Regions from separate parts of the Homo sapiens genome. Here all the other regions are linked to region 2. The links come from fine-mapping of genetic effects on gene expression. A gene starts in region 2. Each other region holds a variant in brackets. All regions are shown on one strand. Distances are between the middles of the regions.

Region 1 (5,183 bases), 88 kb before region 2:
GAGGCTGAAGCGGGCTGATCATTTGAGGCCAGGAGTTGGAGACCAGCCTGGCCAACATAGTGAAACCCTGTCTCTACTAAAAATACAAAAACTACCTGGGCGTGGTAGCATACATCTGTAATCCCAGCTACTCAGGAGGCTGAGGCAGGAGAATCGCTGGAACCCGGGAGGCAGAGGTTGCAGTGAGCCCAGACCGCTCAACTGCACTCCAGCCCTAGGTCTCAAAAAAATAAAGGGGGCGGGGGGGACTGAGGCACAAAGAGATGGCGGAGCCAGACGCTGCGCCACGCAAGGCTGACGGTGCAGAGATGAAGGTGCTGAGGGGAGAAAGGCACTGGTGGCGAGGGGTGCAGCCCCAGCGTTGGGGAGGCCAGGGGGCAGAGACGGCAGCTGCCAGGTGAGCCTCCAGTGGAGCCGAGGTCTGGCGCACTCAGCCAAGCCCCAAGCGGCCGTGGCCTGACAGCCGCTGCTCAAGCAGATGAGCAGGGCTCTCTGTTCCGCGGGGCTTCTGGATGACCGGGGCAGCGATGCGGGCACCCTGGCCTGGGTTGCCAGGCCAGAAGACTCACTTCTTGCTTTTGAACGTGCCCAGGATCTTGGGCACGAACTTGCCCACCTTGCTGTCCCTGGTGCCCTCCTCCGCGGGGCCTTCCCCTGCCCCAGGGCTGCTGGCCTCCTCTTTCTTGCAGAAGACCTCGAAGCGGCTGTACACGCGCTTCTCCTTGCGCATGCTCTCCATGCGGCGCAGCAGCCGATCGCGCTCCTCCGCGCTGGCTGGCAGCGTGCGGCTCAGCCGGCCCTGGGTCCCCAAGCTGTCCGAGCGGAAGATGGCTGAACACTTGTCCTTGTCGGACATATCTGGGGCCAGGACGCCAGCAGCCGGTGGACGGCCTAGCTCGGGGCTGTTGTGGGTCGGGCCGGGGCTCGGGGCAGGGACCGCACGGTGCTTCTGGCCGTGGGCACTGATCTGCTCCAGAATGGCCTTCGTGTCATCCCGAAGGTTGCTGCTGTACAAGGCGTTGGCCGTGGCTGAGGACAGGCGCGCCCGCGGACCCCGCTCTTCTGTGGCAGCCTCCGTGCTGTCACCCTGGCCCAGTGACAGACGCCGCGGGCTCTCGGGTTGGCCGTTCTCCTGCGGCACTGGGAAGCCACCCTCATCCTCCATGCGCCGCTCGCCCTTGGGGCTCAGCAGCTGCCTAAGACGCAAGGAGCCTTTGCGCAGGACTTCCATGGGGCCGCTCGGCCCCTCCTCCGCGGGCCCGGCCTTCGGGGACTCCCCGGAGATGGTAAGGGTGAGGCTGCCCCTGCGCTCCGGCACGGGGGGCACCGGACTGCTCCTGCGCTCCGGCACGGGGGGCACCGGACTACCCCTGCGCTCGGGGTAGGCTGAGGTGGGGCTCCCCTTCTGCTCGATAAATCCTGTAGTTGGACTTCCTCTTCGAGTGGAAAACCCAGGCGTGGGGCTCCCCTTCCGCTCAGGGTAAGCCGAGGTGGGGCTCCCTTTTGACTCATTATGGAGCACCTGGTGCGCTCCGGACCCTTCCAGCGGCAGAGGGCTGTCCAGCCCTTGCGGGGACGTTGAGTGGCTCTGGGCAGAGAGGAAGCGGGAAGGCAGGCGGTCGGAGCCGCTCCGGCCCAGTGTGTCGAGCAGCTGCGCCGCGGTGAGCGACGCGGCTCCCGGCTGCCGCTCCGCCTCCTGGTGCAGCTGCTGTGCAAAGGAGTCGCGCAGGTCCAGCAGGCAGCTCTCGAGGCTGCGGCGCTCGCCCCCCACGGCACCTGGGGCCGCCACCTCTTCCCGCCACGCCTGGGACACGACGGCCTTGCTGTGGCTGGCAACGGTGATGGCGCCCGCGCCGCCGCCGGGATCACGGGCTGGGCCCTTGTACTTCTCCAGCAGCTCCGCCACCTTGGTGGAAGCCGCGGAGCGCACGGCCTCTCCGCCGGGCCCCAGCGTCTCGCTGACCGTCTGCTCCTTGTGCAGCAGCTGCACCTTCTCAGTGGCCGCCGCAGCCCCGGCCGCGCCCTCGGCCTGTGACGTGCTGAAGATGAGCGAGGAGCGCAGCCTGGAGCTGCGCTGGACCAGGGGGTTCAGGCGCGAGCGGAATGAGTCCTGCTTGGCCAGGCCAGGCTCCTCCGGGCCCTCGCGCTCTGGGCCGTTGCCGCCGCTGCCCGGGCCTGGCACCGGGACCTTGGTGGGGAAGGCTGCTGGGACGCGGAAGGCCGAGGGGAGCAGGTCGCCGGCAGGTGCCCGGCCCCCGGGAGCCAGCACGTCGTCTTCGTAAGCCTCCGCTTCCATGGGCGCCGGTAGGCCGTCGTCGCCCCCATCCTCGCCGTGGCAGCCGCTCAAGTAGGAGGCCAAACGCCAGCGCCGCAGCCCTGCCCGCCCCTCGGGCCCGCCCCTGCGCTCCGGCTCCGCCTCGGGAGCGGGGTCTGGGCCCGGCCTCGCCGCGGCCTGGCATGGGAAGCGCTGGGTCAGGTTGGGGCGCGGGGCTCCGCTGGGCTCCAGGCCGCGGGGTCCGGGCGCGAAGGCGGGGTCCGAGCCGTGGCGCACCTCGCGGGACGCGCTGGACGGCACGTAGTCCAGCCGCTGGTGCCCGTCGGGTCCGAGCTCC[G/A]GGAAGCGGGGCCCGGCGCCCAGGGTGAAGTCATCCGGGTCCGCGAAACCCGCGCGGCCCCCGCGAAGCTTCTCGAACAGGCCTTGCGGGCGCGCCGGCGTGAGCTGCGGGTCCCACTGGTACTGCTGCTGGTAGAGCTGGTCACGGTGGAAGTGGCTGGTCTGGAAGCGGAAGTCGTCGCCGTGGCTGAGGAACGTCTGCCGCGACACCTGCCGCGCGGCCGCGAAGTTCTCCACGGCGCCCGCGCCCTCGGTCGCGAAGCTGTGCCGCTTGAAGGCGTCCATCTCCAGGTGCCGCGCCTGGAAGAAGCCCCGCGCGCCCGCGAGCTCCCCAGCCGGCCCGGCCTCGGCCTCCAGGCGCCGCGAGAGCGGCCGCAGCCCCGCGTGCGGTTCCAGCGCGCCCCCCGGCATCCGCGGCGGCTCCTCCCGGCGGAAGGCCGACAGGAAGTGGCGGTCCGGGTCGAGGAAGGAGGGGAAGCCCAGGCCCTCTTCCCGGGGTGGCGGGAACAGGAGGTGCGCTCGTTTAGGGAAGGAGAAGGGGGTTGGCGCCCCGACCCCAGGGACGCCCACGAGAGGCCCGGCCCCGGCATACGGAGCCAGGGCATAGGCGTCCATGCGGGCCAGGGCCGCGGCCGAGGGCACAAGCGGCTCGGACTGCGCGAAGAGGATGCGGAACTCCTCGTCGAAGCTGGAGACCAGCTCTCCTTGGAACACGTGCGCCAGGCTGCGGTGGATCTTCTCAAAGGACCACATGAAGCTGTGGGGGGGTCAGGGCCAGAGTCAAACCGAGCTGGAGCGAGGGCACTGCAGCCCCGTGGGCAGCGGGTGGGGCGCGGAGGACGCAGGGATGTGAGGTCTGCAAGGACCTGGGCCCGGCTAGGCTGTGCAGGGGTCTACAGGACAAGGGCTCCTGGCGAGGAGGGCCCTGGTGTGGAAAGGGGGTGCTGGGGTTACAGGAGGAGGCCCCAGAGAAGGGGGTGAGGGAGCCCCGCGGGCGCACCTGTAGCTCCCACTCATCACCACGGCACAGTCCACCAGCAGGAACTTCTCCTTGACGTGGCCCTTGAAGGACTTCCCAGTGCGGCAGTAGTAGGTGGGGCCCGCCACAGTCCGTACGCGCAGGAACTGGGGAGGGAGGGGAGTCAGATCTCTCCCACGGGTCCTCCCCAATCTCCCACTCCCGGGAACTCACATCCACGTGCTGCAGGTTGACACGGCACTTGTCGGCCATGTCCAGGAAGTGCTGCGCGTTCATCTCATCCAGCAGGATGTAGACTGGGACCCGACGGGCCGCGGCCTCCAGCACTTCGCTGAGCAGGTCCACATCAGTGAACATGTCCATCACCACGGCCACCACCTGCAGGGGCGGGTCAGGACGGAGAGGAGAGGCCCCTGCTGTCCCCACACCATTGTCCAGCCTCCCCTCCACACCCGGGAGGTGTCTGGATCACCCACGACCACTGTGAAACAAGCTAGTCCATCCTAGGGAGTTGGCGCCACATCTGGGAAGATGGGCAGGAAGAAGGGACCAAACAGAAGAGGTGTGGAACGGCTGGCCATAAGGGGGAAACCGAGGCAGGTGCAGGGCAGAGAACCCTGGATGAGGGTGGGCCAGGTTGGGGCACGGCAAGGGCCCCTCAATCCCCTCCACCCTACAGACGGCTGAGCTGCCCCCATTCCAGGGCAGCTGTCAGGGCCAAGTGCCAGGCTCCAGTTCTGCCCTGGGACGGGGTTGTTGCCCTGGGCAGGGGAGAAAGTCACAAGCCTTTAGCGTCTGGACCTCATGCCTCAGTCGCTATGGTTTAACAGCACCTTCCGCCGTCTGCTAGCTGTTTGGTGATGGTTAGAAGCCCTCAGCTGGCCAAGGGCCACCGGGCAGGATGAGAGGTAATTATCTGAACAATGAACCCAGGCTGGTGGGGTGCCCACCCATCCCCAGAGCCCCCGAGTTTCTGGGCACTGGCCATGACCACAGGCAAGCAGACCTGTGCAGAGCCTGCAGCCCCTGATGACCGAGACCTGGCAGCCCTGAAGATCTTTGCCAGGGACCCCCACTCCAGCTGGAGCTCAGGCTCACCCCTCAAGCTGATCATGCTCATGCATCTCCTCCACCCCCGTGCCTCTAGCCCAGGCCCCTCCCCCACTACCCTCAAGCCCAAGATGGCGCACCTGCTGGGCGGAACGGATCATCCTGCGGGCCTCATCCTTGATACTGGGGCTGTCGGGGGGCGGTGGCTGCACCAAGGTGGTCACCTCGGTGCCCTGGAAGCCGAAGGTCAGAGGCCAGCCCAAATCAAGCTCAGGCACGGCCTGGTCTGAGTTCACTGGCCAGTATGTACCCGAGGAGCCATCCATGTCCACGTCGAGAAGGCTGCCTTCAGGTGGCTCTCGGGTAACATACTGCGGAGGCCGAAGGTGTCGGCTCACATGTTCCAGCTCTTCAGGGCACAGGAAGTCTGGTGCCCCCTCGGTAGCGAGGAAGCGGCTGTAGGCCTCCGAGCCACCCTCGGCCAGTGCATCCACCGCCAGGCGGTAGTACTCTTTGTAGTGAGGCGGCAGGTACCCGGGTGCC
Region 2 (5,000 bases):
CAAAGCCTCCTGCTGCGCCGTGCTCAAGAGACTATACGCCCCCACACCCAGCTCCCACCCGCCTGCCCTCCCGAGGTGCCCCTTGCTGTCGGATCTGCTCGCTGTCCCCTTCTTTGCCCTTGCTTCCGTGGCCCGCCCTCCGGTCTCTGCCCTGTCAGGCCTCCACGCACCAGCACTTCCAGATCGTTGCCTCCCAGATCCAGCTGTTCCAGCTTGACCAGAAATGACAGGGACCTGCAGAGGAAGCAGGGTGGAGGTGTGGCCACGCAGCCCTGGTCCCTGGGCTGTGGCCCTGCCCTGGCTGTTAGGAGAATGCCTGTCACACTCACGCTGGCAGGGACTTGAGCAGGTTCTCCCGGAGCTCCAGGGTCACCAGGTTGGCGAGGCTGAAAGAGAGACCAGGCGCTGGGGCAAGAGGAAGGAAAGCAGTGGCAGCAGGGGCAGGGCCAATCCTGGTCCCCCACCCCACCCTAGTTCCACCTGAGAAGGCACTCACTTGCCCACGTCCCCGGGCAGTGCCTGCAGAGACACATCATTCAGGGCCAGGTGAGCCAGGCTGCGCAGCTGAGTGAAGCCATCAGGGAGCCTGGATGGGAGGAAGCAGAGGCCCTCGGATGACCAGTCCAGGGCTGTGGGACCCATAGCCCCTACCGACCCCACCACAGGCTGCCACCCACCTGGAGAGGGGGTTCCCGCTGAAGTCCGCGATCTCCAGAGCCTTGCAGAACTTGATGCTCTCCGGGATCTCAGGGATATCTGTCACAGAGGGTCACAGTGGACAGATGCCATGGCCTGCAGGCCGTCTGCAGCCCCAGCGGACACTCCCCAGACCCCACCCAGCCCCTGCCCAGGCTCCCCACCGTTCCGGGACACGTCCAGCTCCACCAGCTGCATGAAGTTGGCCACCTCGGGAGGCAACCGCTGGATCTCGTTGTCGCTCAGGCCCAGCTTGCGCAAGTTCAGCAGCCGGAAAAAAGGCTGTGGGCAGGGAGGACACGGACTCTGTGGCAGAGACCACTGCAGAGCAGAGAAGAGCTCCTGGACACGTGAGTGTCACAAGTCAAGAGTCCCTAGGCCTCTGTCTGCTCCAGGTCACACCGGGTCCTGGGGTCTAACCACGACACCCCATTTGCAAAAAAAGGAAAGAAACACACGGTACACACGCCCACTGTGGCTGCCTCCCTCTACTCTTCACACCAGCCTCCACTCTGAGAAGACACCTGCTGGCGACCAGACAAAGCCCCAATCCCCTACCCTGTGTCTTACCTCAGGGCCCACCCAGCCCCTGAACCACTTCTGCCACCCTCCAGGGGCCCACACTGGCCTCTGCTACTGCATCCTGACAACAAGCCTGGCCTGGTTCTGCAGCAAGAACTCAGTAAACGCTCCCCACAATAACACAGTACCACAGGCACAGTGCTACGCGCGAGGCCTGCAGGTGGCCACAGAGGACCGAGCTGTCACTGCCACGGCCAGAACAGGGTCACATTCTTTGGGACACCCAACCCCTAGGTACTGATCACCCAGCACCCCATCTCCAGAAAAGAAATACTTTTTAATCTGCTTTCTCCAGCCTCCTTTCTTGTAGCAGCCTTAGGAGAGCACCTGACCACGAGAAGCAAGGGTAAAGAAAGGGGGACAGCGAACAGATCCGAGAGCAAAGAGTACATCAAGAGGGCTCCCCCACTCACCCCTGCACCCAGCAAAAAAGGAGAGGAGGTCTGGACCCACCTCCAGAGCGGCCCAAGAAGCTAGTACTCATCAGCCACCTGAATCCAAGTTCCACCCTAACCCCATCCACCTCCCTGAATCCCCACGGGTTTCACTCTGAGGCTCCGCCTCCAGGCTCGGTGACAATCGCTATCCCCAGGCAAGCACCTGATGACCGCTGCCACCTGCGCCAGCCAGGGCGGCTGGAAGAGAAGGGTGGGGCTGGCTGGGGTGGGGACCTGGCCAGTGCAAACCAGCAGGGCCGGCTGGAGGCTGCGGTGACTCGCCCGGGCAGATTCTGCCGCCGGAGGAATCACGGGCTGGGGGCGCGCCTTTGGGCGGCAGGTGCGGGCGGCCGCTCACCTTGGGCAGCTCGCGCAGCTGGTTGGCGTCGAGCAGCAGCTCCTCCAGGCTGCGGCTGTAGCGGTAGATCTCCTCCGGCACGGCCTGCAGCGAACAGTGCCGCTTGTCCACCGACTCCACGTGCCGGTTGCAGCGCCACAGCGGGATGCACTTGAGCATGGTGCGGGTGGGCGGCGCGGGCTCCGGCGGCGGCGCTCGGCGGGCTCGGGGCCGGGGGGCGGGGCTCAGTCCGCATGGGCGCCGCGCATGGGGAGGGGGCGCAGGCAGGGGGCGGGCCGCCCGAGACTGGACGGGGACGCGGCCGCGGCCGGCGCTGGGCCCGGCCCGCGCTCGGAACGCTCGGACTGCGGGCCTGGGCAGGGGGCGCGGCCCGGCGGGTCTCAGACTCTTAGGAAGCGCGGGGAGCGGCGGCGGCGGCGGCTCCGCATCCCGCTTGGTCCTGCTCAGCTCGTCCCGCCCGCTCGTCCGCCCGCTGTGCCGCACCGGAACCGCCGCTGCCCGCCGGACTGCCCCGCCGACACCCACCCGGCCGCCGCGCAGCCCGTCGGGAAGCCGAGTCCGGCCCTCGCCGCCTAGCACGCCCGGACTGCGGCCCCCAGAAGGCCCCGCGCGCCGCCGCCTCTGAGGACCCGTAGCGGCACCGCGCAAAGCGTGCCGGGAAGCCGGGCCCGCCCCGCGCGCGGGATATTGGGAGCTACAATCCACGAGAGGCGGCGCCCTCCGCCCTCCGGTCTTCAGCCCGGCCCCTGGCCCCGCGGCATTTGGCCACGAATCTTAACGCACAGCCTCCTCCCGGGAAGCGACCATGCCCGCCCGCCCGCCTTGGACGGCCGGCTCTGCGGCACAAAAGCACTGGCAGCGCGCGCTGTCCAGCGGGTCGCGGTGTCCCGGTGCCCAGCCTTCTCTCAGCACCACCCTGCGGGGACGGCTGCGAGCCCGCGCGCGAGAGCCTGGCGCCCCAGGCAGCCCCGCCCACCCAGCCGCCGCCACCCGCGGGACGGGGCCCGGGGCGCCAACCCCCTGCCCAGGTCTCGCCCACGGCAGGCCCCTCCTGCCAACAGGAAGCAGGTCCAGAGACCCCCCCAACCCTGCCTCCTCGCCCTAGACCCCCTAAGGACACACGCCCAGGATCGGTGACAGGACCGACGGCAGACACACGGACGTTCAGGGCCAGCAGCATCCGCACCTTTATCCGCACTGTAGGCTGGGCTGGGCAGAGCGCGCCTGGCCCCGGGGACACCACTGTATCACTATAAAACCCAGAGGAAACAAGGAACAAGTGCAAGTCCGGGGAGAGGGACCACTGTCACGCAGAGAGGTCACTGTTATCAAAACGCTCCTGGTCGTACACTTCAGCCACCACCTTGCGGCCAGCAAACCAGCGGCCATTGAGGGCCTGGATGGCCTTATGAGTCTCAGAGGCTATGGAAAACTCCACAAAGATCTTGACAATGATTTCTGCATCCTCCTCCTCGCCTTGTTTCTCTTGGTAGATGATGACGCGGTTCACGGCCCCGAACTTGCCACACTCCTCTGTCACCTCCCCTTCCAGGTCATCATCGATGTCCTTGGGGTCCACCATGTTGCGCAGAACCATCACTGTAGACTGTGGGGCAGGGCCGAGGGGAAGACAGCTGAGCACTGCGGCCCCGCCCCCCTACCCTCTCCCCCGCCACCACCCTGCCCCTCTGCCTACCTCCTGCTTGCGGAGCAGCTTCTGCATCACCATGTGTCGGGCGCTACTGCCCGAGATGCTCATGTGCTCCTGCTCGCTCAGCATCTCTGGCCGCTCTGACTCGGGAAACAGCTCCTCTTCTTCCTTCTCCTTCTTGGGCTCCAGGAGACCCAGCGTTGGAGGGCTGGCCAGGATGGGGTTCACCACTCCCACCGAGGGGATGGTGACCGGGATAGGAGGACGGGCTGGGGTCACACCTGCAGGAAAACCAACCAGGTCCATCAGTCACTCCCTACCACCCCCCTTCCCAGAAAGGCACAGAGCTGGCCTGCCCTGGGCTCAGAGGGTTGTGCCCAGACCACCAGGGCCAGGCAGCTGAGGGCAGCGAGCCGAGAGATGCCAGGACAGGAGAGGAGAGGATCTGGTACCACTTAAGACTCACCTGTGATGACTCCAGGTGCCTGGGCAGCCATGACAGCCTGGGGCAAAGTGCCCAGGGGCTGGGCCAGGGTCAGTGCTGGGGACACCAGTCCAGGTGTGCCCAGGGTACCCAGCACCGCTGCTCCGGCCACTGCTTCCTGCAACCCAAAAGGTCACCGTGCTCAGTCCCTGGTCTGGCTACTCAAGACCACCTTGAATCAGTCTCCAAGGAATCAGGGGCCAGCCCGCCCACCCTCAAGCCGACAGCTGTGTGGGCCCTCACCTGAGCTGTGATCTTGGCAGTGGCTGCAGCAGCTGCCACAGCAGCGGCAGGTGGGAGGCCTCCAGGCGTGGCTGGTGTGAGTAGGGGCATGGGCGGTGTGACAGCCTTGCCCACCCGCAAGTACTGGCCACCCAGGTCAAAGAGGTTCATGGAAGACACAGCATCTTGGGACGACTGGGCCTTCTCGTACTCTGTGGGCAGGAGCAGCAGTGAGCAGGGCCAGCCCCAGCCTCAGGTGGCCCCCATCCCGCCTCAGCCACCCCAGCTCACCAATGAAGCCGTAGCCCTTGTGCTTGCCAGTTGTGGGGTCCCGGGCCAGTGTGCAGGACTTGATCTTGCCAAAGGCCTCAAACACGCTCTTGATGTCATCGTCTGAGAGGTCCTGGTGCACAGAGGCCACGTAGATGCGGTTGAAGGCCCGTGCCTCCTCAGCCAACTGGTCTATGATGGGCTGGGCCTGCCCTATGTTGCTGGGTCTGCCCACCTGGGGAAGAGGCGGTGAGATGGAAAGACCGGTCAACCCAGGCCCGGCCACAAAAGGCTTCCGTG
Region 3 (5,162 bases), 23 kb before region 2:
CCGTGCCGATGGCCGGTCAGTTCTCCGGGCCAGACGTGGGCGATTTGGGGTTTGGACAGACAGCAGTGACCTGATGGGTGTCCCCAGGTGGCCTCTTGTTATTGACCCTTTGGGCCAGGCGGCCACCTTCCTGCGCTACCAGGATACCAACTATGTGGACACGGTGAACCCGGAGCCCCTGAGGCCGGAGACGATGTGGCTGGCTCTGCTGGGGGCTCTGCGGTGAGGCAGGCAGGGTGACAGGTACACCCCACCCCACCTCCCTAGCCCCACCCTGGCCTCACCAGCCTCATGGGGCAGGTATGGGAAGCCGCTGGTGTTCGACCTGCGAGAGGAAGACCTGTTCCCAGTCGTGCAGCGGCAGCTGGAGGCGGTGCAGGAGAGGTACCTGTCGCTGCTGCGGCCCACGGACGGGCCTGAGTATAGCCCCACGCAGTTCCAGGAGCAGCGGCTGGAGCACTTCCGCCTCTTTTTCGTCACCAAGGTCCAGTGGCCGCCAGCTGAGCAGCTGCAGGTGCTGCTCCCAGTGCGCGTGCAGCTGCCAGGCACAGGCCTCTAGTGCTGGCCCCAGTCCCAATAAAACGTGTGCCCCGGGGCGCGGTGCTGCATCTGTGCTGCGTGCGTGGGGGCAGCGGTGGCGTGTGCCAGTCCAGGACTCCGGCAGTCCCGGGCCCCGGCCGGCGGACATGGGTCTGCAGGCACTTGGGGGAGGCCCTGCTGGGGATGGGCAGCCTGCCCGGCCGACCCGTGCGCAGTGAGGCGCAGCGGGAGACGTGGGAGGGACGGTGAGGGTGCAGCCCTCGGAGCTCAGCCTCGCCTCGGAGGGCAGGAAGGGTCTGTGCTAGTGGGTGGGGGATGGACAGGCAGACGGGAGGTAAAATGTAGTCAACTTTATTCTCCTTAAACCACAAAATAGAGTCTTTGGTTGTACAAACATCACTAGTTACAGTCTCGCCGAGGTCTCGGCTGGGGTGGGGCAGTTAGTTAGTCACAGGCCAGAACTCCTGTGGGGTCTCTTTAAAATGCTAACACCCAGGTTAAAAGACTTGGGGCAAGGGTGGTGCTGGAGCTGGCAGGGCCCCCACCCCAAGTCTGGGGGAGGTGCCTGCTCCTCTAGGAGGGCACAGGGCCCAGGCCACGGCGCCCAGGCCTTACGGGGCGGCGGCTGCTGCACAGTGCCACATCTTCAGGGCCCACAGCGCCGGGTGAGGGCCTGCCCAGAAGCACCAGAGCCACTTCTCCATCCTCCTCCTGCGGGCCTGGAGGGCAGGGACAGGTGGGCAGTGAGCTGAGGGCAGCTGGGCTCCTGGGAGCTCACCCCAGCCCGGCCCCAACTCACCAGGGCTGGGAGATGGTTCCAGGGACCTCAACTCCTCAGCAAAGTCCGGTGACTGTGATGGGGAGAGTGTTGGTCAGGCCGGTGCCAGCCCTGCCCCAAACCACCCAGGTGGACGGGTGGGCTCCCAGCCCTGAGGCCCACAGAGCCCGGCTGAAGGGGGAGGGGGGGTGAAGAGGCAGGGCCACGGCAGAGCGTGGGGAGGCCCTGCGGGAGCGGATGGGGGCGGTGGCAGGCACGGACAGGGTGGCAGGCATGCAGAGGCCTGGAGGCCAGGTACCTGGATGTCATAGACAGGTCTGGAAGAAGGCAGGGCCGCAAAGGCCCTGTAGTCAAACTTCTTTCCAGACAAGGGCTTGAAAGGACAGCGTGAGGGGAGAGGCAGAGAGTGAGAGGAAAGGGGGGGATGAGGGCCACGGGGGTGGGGGCAGGCCAGACCCCACCCCCATGCCTCGGGGGTGAAGGGAAGGCATAGCCACCGGCTCCTCACCAGGCGTCCCGGGGAGGTGCTGGTCTGGGGGCCGAGGTCTGGGGGGACAAGAAGCGGGCATTGGAAGCAGCCCATGCGGCAGGCTGACCCCCCCGACCTGCCCTGACCCACAGACCTTCCACAGGGGTGGGCGACGGGGTGGGCGCAGGGGAAGGGGCCTCGGCCAGTCGCTCCAGGGGCCCCCGCGTGCCCCGGCCTTCCTGGGACCTGCTGAGGACCATCTGTGCTCGGAGAGCGTCCTGTTCCAATGACTTCATCCTGCAGAGAACAGCGGGCAGGGGTGACTTGGGGCAGGAGCAGGGACAGGCAGCAGGGCGGGGTGGCGACCCCACACAGGGGCTCACCTGGCTGCCCTCCACAGCGCACGCTTCTCGGCCTCCAGGGCCCGGAGCTCGGCAGGGGACAGGGCACGCTCGGGTGCCGGTGGCTCCGGACTCTGCACGCGCAGCCGCTCCTGGTGGCGCCGTTCAGCTTTGGCCGTCCGCACCGGGGCGCCACCTCCCAGGGGTGGGGGGGACGCCGGGCTCTGCCTGGGGAAGGGACAGGACGTGCTGTGGGGGGCAGGGGCACGTGGGGTGAGTAGGGGGCGTCTGGTGGGCGGGTGCTCACCTTGAGGTGGGGCTCGGGCTGGCCCAGGGTGGCTGCTCATCCTCCTGTTCCTCCTCGCCCAGCGTCTCCCCGTCCAGGGCGAGCCTCGCTTCGGCCCCAGCCTCTGCCGCCTCCCGCAGCATCTGCGCTCTCTTCTGCTGTAGTTTTCTGGCTGCCGGAGGGCAGGGTGGGTCAGGCCAGACCAGCCGAGACCCAACCCCCACCCCACTTCCGTGCCCCTCACCTTCCTCCTCCTGCATCTTCCGCAGGTCGTCAGCACCCACCAGGGACACGCGCTTAGGGGGGCCCTCGGCCTGGGGCACGCGCACCTCCAGCTCAAAGTACTTCTGCCGCTCCCGGAAGGACAGCTGCTCCGGGGAGGCTGCAGGCCCAGGCGTGGGGGGCTGGGGGGAGCGGACCTTGAGGTTTGGCTGGCATTCCTCCGAGATACTGGGGCCCCCGGGCACCCACCCCAACCACGCGCAGCAGGGAGGCGTGCTGCCCCCACACACCTGGGCAGGGGCATCCTCAGGC[G/A]GGTGAGAAGTGGGCACGGCCGCGAAGGCCCTGTAGGCCTGCTTCACATTGGCGGGCAGCTCATCCGGAGAAGGCGGGGAGGGCGGCTGGGGGGTGGGGCTCTTGTGAGCTATGCTGGGGCAGCTGTCGGGGCTGCAGCTGTGTGCAACTCACCACCGGCTGTCCCCCCGCCTGTCCCCCCGCCTGCCTTTGATCCCCACCCACCATCCTGCTGGGGAAGGAGGCTCTGCCACCCCCACCCACGGGACAGAGCACTCACGGAGTGGGGACAACCTCTGCCCCTGGGGGCTGGGGAGCCCCTTGGCCAGGCCTGAGCCAATGGCTGGATCACCCCTGGTTTTGTCTAAAAAAGGCAGGTGGGGGCGGCGGGGGCAGAGGAGAGCAGGATCAGGGGTTTAAGGCAAGGGACGGGGGTAGAGAGGGGGGTGGGAGAGACAGAGAGAGAGAGACCGACCAACCTGGGTGGGGCTGACATCTTGCCTGTGAGGGGCTGAGCTGGGGCTGGGTCTCATGGGGGCTGCCACCTCCACCCCCACGTGGCAGTGTGTTGGGAGGTGCCAACAGTGGGGGGGCAAGGACCCCCAGACAAAAGGCAGGCAGGGATAAGGTGGGCCCTGGGAGGTGTTGGGCCTGAGACACTGACTGGGGTCTCAGGAGCTTGAGCCCCTCCAGGAACAGCACACTCAGGCCCCCCACCCCATCGCCAGGCAGCTCTGGCCAGGAAAGCGTCCCTGGCCTTCCTCACACAGGAGGCCCCATGGTAGCAGAGGGAAAACCGGAGTCAACAGCACCCCACGATGGCCCCTGACCCCCCATCCCTGGAGGAGGGGCCCTGTGCACAGCGGCCATCTGCCCTGCCCTCCACCCACCATGGGGCACACCCGTTAACTTGGGACACTCACCTGCTGGCCACTAGGGGAGCAGGGAGATTCAGCCATCTTCCCTCCAGCTGCTCCAGACGGTACCTGGAGGAGTAGGCAGTGGGTGGGGTGAGGATGGGCAGGGCTGTGGCCCCCGACCAGGAGGGACTGGGGGCCCTGGGGCTTGCCTAAAAGCCACAGCAGCTCTTCAGTTCCCCAACCTGACTATAGCCCAGGGGATGCCCCAGACACTCGGTCAGCACGGAGGGGCTCGTCCCCGTTCCCACAGGATGCGGGGGCCTGGGCTGGGCAGCTGCTGTCTCCATGGCAGTGTGCTGGCTGGAGCTTTGCAGGAGAGATGGGAGCAGACAGGACAGCCGGAGAAGAGAGCAGGGAGGGCTCGGGGGAGGGGCCAGAGACAGAGGTGATGGTGGGGAGCCCCTACTTGTGGTGTGCAGCCCTCAGGGCTCAGTGGCGCCCTGACTGCTGCCCCCATGACTGTGCTGTTGTTCATGAGGATGAAGGGCCTCCCGGAAGCCTCCCTCTTGGCGCTGCCCATGGCCAGAGGAGGCAGGGTCAGTACCCAAGAGCCCCCGAATGCGCTGCCTCAGATCCAGGCCCTGCCTGGCCCCTCACCACCACCCCACCGCTTGGGCAAGGGCCTGCAGGAGCCACCCCTCGGCACTCACGTTCGGTGGGGCTGGTGGGGCGCACCCTCTGGGAGGGTTATTTGTATCTCTAAGGGGAGGGATGGGCCTGCACATCCTCCTGCCTGTCCCCAGCACCCGCCCCTCCAGCTGCTCCAGCCTGTCCTCCCCTTGGGGACATGTGCCTGCCCAATCCCCCAGGAGCCTCTGCCCCCACTCGCACCCTCTGGGGCTGGGCAGCCCCAGCAGCAGCAGGTGAAGCTCTCGCACCGCCACTAGAGGGATGCCTCGGCCTGTGTCACCCATCCGCAGCTCAGGGTGTGTGGGTGGGGCAGCACCAACATGGCTTGGGTTGAGAATGAGGGTGATAAGCATGTGCCAGGCTGGGGTAGCCTGCAGGTCAGACGTGGCCTCCTCCCACCCCAGCCCCCGCCCAAAGGTTCCCTCCCGGATGGCCCTGGCGTTTGTCCTGGGGTGGCCGATGAACAGGACAACAGGACGGAGGTGGGGGGCACTGCACACTGGGCACTCACCCTCTGCACGCTGCCAGCGCTGGGCACGGCGGCCAGGGCGCGGTAGTCCAGCTTCAGGGGCTGCAGACCCCGACCCTGGGGGCAGAGTGAACACAGCACTAGCAGGGGTAGCTCCGTGGCAGCACCCGGCCAGCACAGGGCAGGAGAGGGGGTCCTGGGGGTTACTACCCAGCA
Region 4 (5,183 bases), 110 kb before region 2:
GGGCCAGGCCCCGGGAGGTGCTGGGGGGGACTGGGGGCACCCACTTGAGACCCCAACAAGGGAACTCAGGGCCCCGGGGAGAGGGAAGCCCGGGCTGAGCGCCACAGACCTGCTCAGAGGGAGGAGCCGGCCCGCGGGACAAGGGGCAAAGGAGGCCACCACCAACCCGCAGAGCCGCAGCCGCCTCCACGCACCCCCGGAATCCACGCCTCCCGAACCGGAAGCGCGGCGCCGCTCTAGCCCTGGGCACTCGCTGGTCGCGTCGCGGCCACGAGGAAGGTTGAGCGCGAGCTGGGCGGGCGTCCCGCGCAGCCCGGAGAGCTGACCCTCCACGGAGGGGCATTTTAATAACCGCCTGTACACATCCAGACGCGACAACTAAATGCAACACGTGACCCTGGAAGATGGGGACAGCCACAGAAACACTTGGGACGGGTGACAAAGTTGTGATGTGAGCGACGATGGGGATAATATTCCTCCACAGTAAATGTCCTGGTTCTGATCACTGCACTAAAGCATCGTAGGAGAACATCCCTCTGTTCAGGAAATACACACGAAAGTACTTCGGGGCTCCGGGGCCAGCGTCTCCAACCGCATCTCAAACGGTTCCGAAGCAACGCTCGTGCACAGCGATACACACGGACCAAATTCACGGGCAGCGTCAGCGGCCGGGCATCCGGATAAAGGGTCCATGGCGGTCCCTGTGCTATTTTTGCAACTTTCTCTAAGTTGGAAAGTATATCAAAGTTTTAAAATTACTGAAAAACTCCCAGTAGGTTGAACATAAGACATCCCCTTGGCGCGGAGAACAAAGTCTACGCTTTTCCCCCGGGCCTCACCGTAGCGGCCCAGCTGCCAGCTGCCGCTTCGTCGCACGTCCGCGCCCGCCAGTGCCCGGGCTTGCTCTGAGCCTGCCGGCTCGCGGTAGGGCCCCACTGAGGGCAGGGATGCGGGGTCCCAAAGGGCATTCAGGGAAAGCAGGCGCTGAGCTCTCTTGCAGCTTGGAAATTGGACGCACGAATGAGTGGCCGGCCGGAAATGCTAGAGCATGCACGCGGGTGTCAGAGCCGCCTGGGGGCCACGCCTTTATTAACCATTGCATTATCCCCGTAAGCGCCCTGCGCGCCTGACTCGCCCACACTAGGGCCTCCTGGGCCTCACTCTCTGCAGGTTCAGGCTCTACCCGGGGAGGCTTCTGCCGCAGCTTCAGCGTTCACGCTGTCCTCCGACTGTGGGGGGAGAAGAGCCGGATCCCGATCCCGGGACAGGCCAGAGAGAAGCTTGGGGCCAGACTTCGTGGAGCGGAGAGTGTCCTGTGAGGACACCCTCGGTGAGGACCCCGAAGAGATCCCAGAGCCCTCGAGTGACTGCACCAGCGACAGGGCCCGGGAGCCTGCGCGCGAAGCGGTCAGGGATGGCATCCGGGATCCCACCTTTGAAGTGGCCAGCGATGGGACCCTGGAGTCCATGCTCGATAGCACCAACGAGGGGACCCGGGAAGCCTCGCGCGACGGGACCACGGACGAGGCCCGGGGGGCCGCGCGCGACGGTACCACAGACGGGGTCTGGGAGGCCGCGCGCGACGGGCTTATGGGGGCGGCTAATGACCCGGGGCGCGAGGTGGGCTGGGAGAAGGCCGGCCGCTCCCAGAGCGGCGGGCCTCCGGGGCCCCTGCGCAGCCAGCCGTGCACACGCGCCAGGTCCCGCGTGTCCTCGTGCTCGCGGTGCAGTTGCTCGCGCTGTTCCAGCAGCTGGCGCCGCGTGTGGTGCAGCAGCTGGGTCCGGCGGAGCAGCAGCAGCAGCTCCTGCCGCAGGCGTCCGTTGTCCGCTTTGATGGCCTGCGTGTGCGCCACAAGCGCGCGCACCGCCTCCCGCTCCGCGCGCCGCGCCAGTGACTGCACGCGCTGACGCGCCTCGCGCTCGAAGGCCGCCTTGTCCTCCAGGAAGCGCCGCTTCACGCGGTGGAGCAGCTGCGTGTGCTCCACGCGCATATGCAGCAGCTCGCGCTCCAGCGCCCGGATCCGGGCCAGCTGCTCCAGCTGCAGCACCTGCGGCGGGGGCGCCGTCAGCTCACCCCCACCCCGCCCCCGGCCCGGCCACCAGCCCCGCCCCGCCTCACCCCGGCCGCGGGCGGGCTCACTGGCCTTGTAGGGCTGCAGCTCTTGCACCTGCTGTGCCATCTGTGCCGCGCGCGCCTCCATCTCCAACAGCTGCGCGCGCACCCCGTCCTCGCGCCCGTGGTAGAGCGAGGCCAGTTCCGCCCGCTGCCAGTGGATCTGCGCTAGGTCCACGCGGTTCTGCTCGTCCAGCCGGACGATGGCTTTGGCGCAGCGCTGGGCGCGCGCGCTCACGTAGCTGGCGTAGAGCCGGTTCTCCTCGCGCAGGCGCAGCGCCTCGCGGTCCAGGAAGGCGTTCTCTCGCAGCACCTGGTCAACGCTCTCCTCGCAGGTGTCCAGCTGCTCCGAGAGCAGCGCGTGTTCGCGTTGCAGGTACTGCGCGCGCTCCGATAGCGGCTGCTCGGCACCCGCGGCCGCCGCACCACCTGGCTGGCTCCCTGCGCTCGGCCCGCGCTTTTTCTTGGGCGCCATGGGTTGGTGCCTGGACCACCAGGACTGGTGAGGGCAGCGACCCCGGCCCCTTCCCCAATTTAGCCCTTCCTCTTACCTGGCCTAAATATTCTAGGCGCCAGGCCCAGAGGTGGGACGCGCCTCGGGGTCACGAGGCTTTTGGGGAGGCAGATCGGGGCTTTGGGTCGCGGGTCAGGGCAGCTTTGCCAACCTTCACTCGTGGGCTCCCGCTGGACCTTCGCTGTCCGTCTGGGTGCGCCTAACATTAGTAATGTTGCTGCT[C/T]GGCGGGCACGGTCTCTATGGAGACAGAACTTACTCGTCCTCTCCCACCCCCACCCCGTTACTCTGGCGATGGCCGACTCCTTCATTCCGCACAACTCTCTCATCTTGAGTCGCCCGTGACTGCTTGTGAATGTGCCCCCAGAGATAGGGCCTGAGCTGACAAAACTGGGCTTCAGACGGACTCCGGACGTGCTTCTGAATCTCACAGACCCCAGAAGCGCCCTTCGCCTTCGGTTCAGCAACGGGCCTTCTCCCGGGTTGTCCCCCACTTGAAGAGGAGCTTCACCACGTTCCCCCCCGTTTCCCGAGTGAAATCTCTGTGTTGTCAGGAGGGAGCGCTTCCCTGGAGCATTCGCCTCTTCAGGGACCCTTGCTTTCCCTGAGCATTTCGTGATTCCTTCGGTGAGGCCCCCGTGGGAATTGGGGTTCCTGAAGTATGGAGTCCACTGGGCGCCTAGAGAGCGTTTCTCTCTGAAGGTCCTAAGCGCGCGCGTGCGGCACCCGCTCAGCTCATCCGCGGCTCTGCAGCTGGGTAGCTTCCCTTCCCCGTGTGCCCGGATGGCTGGAGGACATAGGGATCCAAAAAGGGCTGGCTTTTTCTCCTTTTCTGTTGACTTTGTGGACACAACATCATTATTGAAACCATTCCTATAGACTTTATTAATCAGGGAAGAAGGGAGGCGAGAAAGGAAAACAAACCCAGCTTGCAGCTCGCTCAGCATTCATTGTGAGGTCAGCCTGCCTCCCAACTCCTTCCTCAGAGCTGTTTGGTGCCTGTGGCCCCAGAATCACACAGACCCTGTCACAAGATGAGAGGTCCCCATAACTGCTCTATAGGTAACAACTTAAACATAGTAAAATGTGAGGTTTTCTATTTGACAGGTCCTGCACACCCATGAAGCGACTGACCCAGCTGGTCTGAAGCACCCCACGAGGAGGTAATGTGCCAAAGAACGCAGGGTACACATCCTGAGGACTTCATCCCCTTTCCCCGGCCAATTGATGACCCCATTTTACAGTCCGTCACCCGCCACAATCCCTTTAAAAACCCCAGCCCAGAACTCAGGGAGATGGATTTGAAGGTCCCTCCCATCTCCTTGCTCGGTGTCCGGGGATCATGACACTTTCTCTGCTGCAAACTCTGCTGTCTTGATGTATTGGTCATTACTGCACAGCAGGCATCACCACCTGTTGGTCCTGTAAGATTTGCCTCCGTCTAGACCAGCGGTCCCCAGCTCCCGTTCTGTTAGATGCCTCAGGAACAGTGTGTCCAGCAGCCTTTGACACACAACTTAAATCGACCCCTATTTTGTGTTCTGTCATCATAGAGTTGAGTTTCTGCCCAGTTTGTCCACATTTGCTGGGATGTGGGCAGATTTGAGGATCTTTGTGAGGGACACAGTTTAGAAAACCACATTTGCACAGAGGTTTGTGGTGGAGGTCGTCTGGTGGCTCATGGACATGGCTGGGCTTGCTCTGATCAGCCAACCTGCCTGAAAGGTGCAGCAGAGCCTTTTAAAATTAAGAACACGATTGAGGCATTTTACTCCTTGTAAAAAAATGTATTTTAGGCTGGGCGCAGTGGCTCACACCTGTAATCCCAGCACTTTGGGAGGCTGAGGCAGGCAGATCACGTCAGGAGATCCAGACCATCCTGGCCAACATGATGAAACCCTGTCTCTACTAAAAATACAAAAAATTAGCCAGGCGTGGTGGCAGGTGCCTGTAGTCCCAGCTACTTGGGAGGCTGAGGCAGGAGAACGGCGTGAACCCGAGAGGCGGAGCTTGCAGTGAGCCGAGGTTGCGCCACTGCACTCCAGCCTGGGCGACAGAGCGAGACTCTGTCTCAAAAAAAAAAAAGTATTTTATAAGTAAAAATAAGAGGACACAAACTACCAAACAAAGCATTAACATTGTAAGAGGACATTGACTTATAAACTAAACTGCATCTGAATGTTGGCTTTAATATATGGGCTTTTAATATGAAAATGGTGCCTCTCCTGTCACAGAAAATTGGGAAAAGACCACATAGAATCATGAGAAAAACATGACCCTGCATCCCTGCATCCCTGCAGCAGGGGCTCAACTGCAGCAGGGACTCATCTGGGGTGGGGGGCAGGCTCATGTGTAGGGGTGCTTAATGCCCAGCGTTGCCTCTTCTGGTTCCTTGCCATGGCCACACCCCAGTGCTCTCCACCCTGCTACCCTCAGGCCTTGTGTGGGGTCACTGTCCCCATTTGACAGATTGAGAAACTGAGGCAGCAATAGGCAGAGGCCTGCTCACATGGGCCAGTCGGGTGCCCCACAGTCTCAGACCCTGTACCATCCCAGGCC

Evidence for each region. PIP is the estimated chance that this variant, and not a neighbour inherited with it, causes the effect. A credible set is the group of variants that fine-mapping cannot tell apart.
Region 1: its variant is the best candidate, but not a certain one, in a credible set for the expression of SCRIB in breast (GTEx, PIP 0.76).
Region 3: its variant is the best candidate, but not a certain one, in a credible set for the expression of SCRIB in whole blood (INTERVAL, PIP 0.83).
Region 4: its variant is the best candidate, but not a certain one, in a credible set for the expression of SCRIB in whole blood (INTERVAL, PIP 0.80).

What each region holds. Positions count from the first base shown.
Region 1 is chr8:143,725,356-143,730,538 of GRCh38, forward strand. It overlaps FAM83H (family with sequence similarity 83 member H), which reads right to left. Exons shown (of 5, transcript NM_198488.5): 2 at 4,781-5,183; 3 at 3,804-3,968; 4 at 3,612-3,736; 5 at 1-3,368. The coding sequence ends at 566. Among named protein-coding and RNA genes, the nearest start is that of MIR4664, 5.2 kb to the right of the region's middle. The variant G/A (reference allele first, on the strand shown) is at 2,613.
Region 2 is chr8:143,813,141-143,818,140 of GRCh38, forward strand. SCRIB (scribble planar cell polarity protein) reads right to left here and starts at 2,633. Exons shown (of 37, transcript NM_182706.5): 1 at 2,074-2,633; 2 at 861-978; 3 at 678-756; 4 at 497-586; 5 at 330-386; 6 at 171-234. The coding sequence starts at 2,232. PUF60 (poly(U) binding splicing factor 60) reads right to left here. Exons shown (of 12, transcript NM_078480.3): 8 at 4,722-4,935; 9 at 4,452-4,642; 10 at 4,191-4,326; 11 at 3,770-4,005; 12 at 3,204-3,679. The coding sequence ends at 3,380. RefSeq lists enhancers at 1,011-1,675, 1,960-2,592, 2,593-3,225.
Region 3 is chr8:143,790,050-143,795,211 of GRCh38, forward strand. IQANK1 (IQ motif and ankyrin repeat containing 1) reads left to right here. Exons shown (of 14, transcript NM_001381874.1): 12 at 1-15; 13 at 88-222; 14 at 301-596. The coding sequence ends at 559. SCRIB (scribble planar cell polarity protein) reads right to left here. Exons shown (of 37, transcript NM_182706.5): 27 at 4,989-5,063; 28 at 3,851-3,913; 29 at 2,927-3,034; 30 at 2,659-2,818; 31 at 2,436-2,586; 32 at 2,171-2,356; 33 at 1,942-2,084; 34 at 1,827-1,864; 35 at 1,617-1,691; 36 at 1,340-1,391; 37 at 876-1,259. The coding sequence ends at 1,114. Among named protein-coding and RNA genes, the nearest start is that of MIR937, 20 kb to the right of the region's middle. The variant G/A (reference allele first, on the strand shown) is at 2,949.
Region 4 is chr8:143,705,522-143,710,704 of GRCh38, forward strand. CCDC166 (coiled-coil domain containing 166) reads right to left here and starts at 2,588. Exons shown (of 2, transcript NM_001162914.1): 1 at 2,145-2,588; 2 at 1,173-2,048. The coding sequence starts at 2,588. The coding sequence ends at 1,173. It overlaps LOC101928160 (a long non-coding RNA gene), which reads left to right and starts at 2,530. Exons shown (of 6, transcript NR_134306.1): 1 at 2,530-2,615; 2 at 3,732-3,787. The variant C/T (reference allele first, on the strand shown) is at 2,850.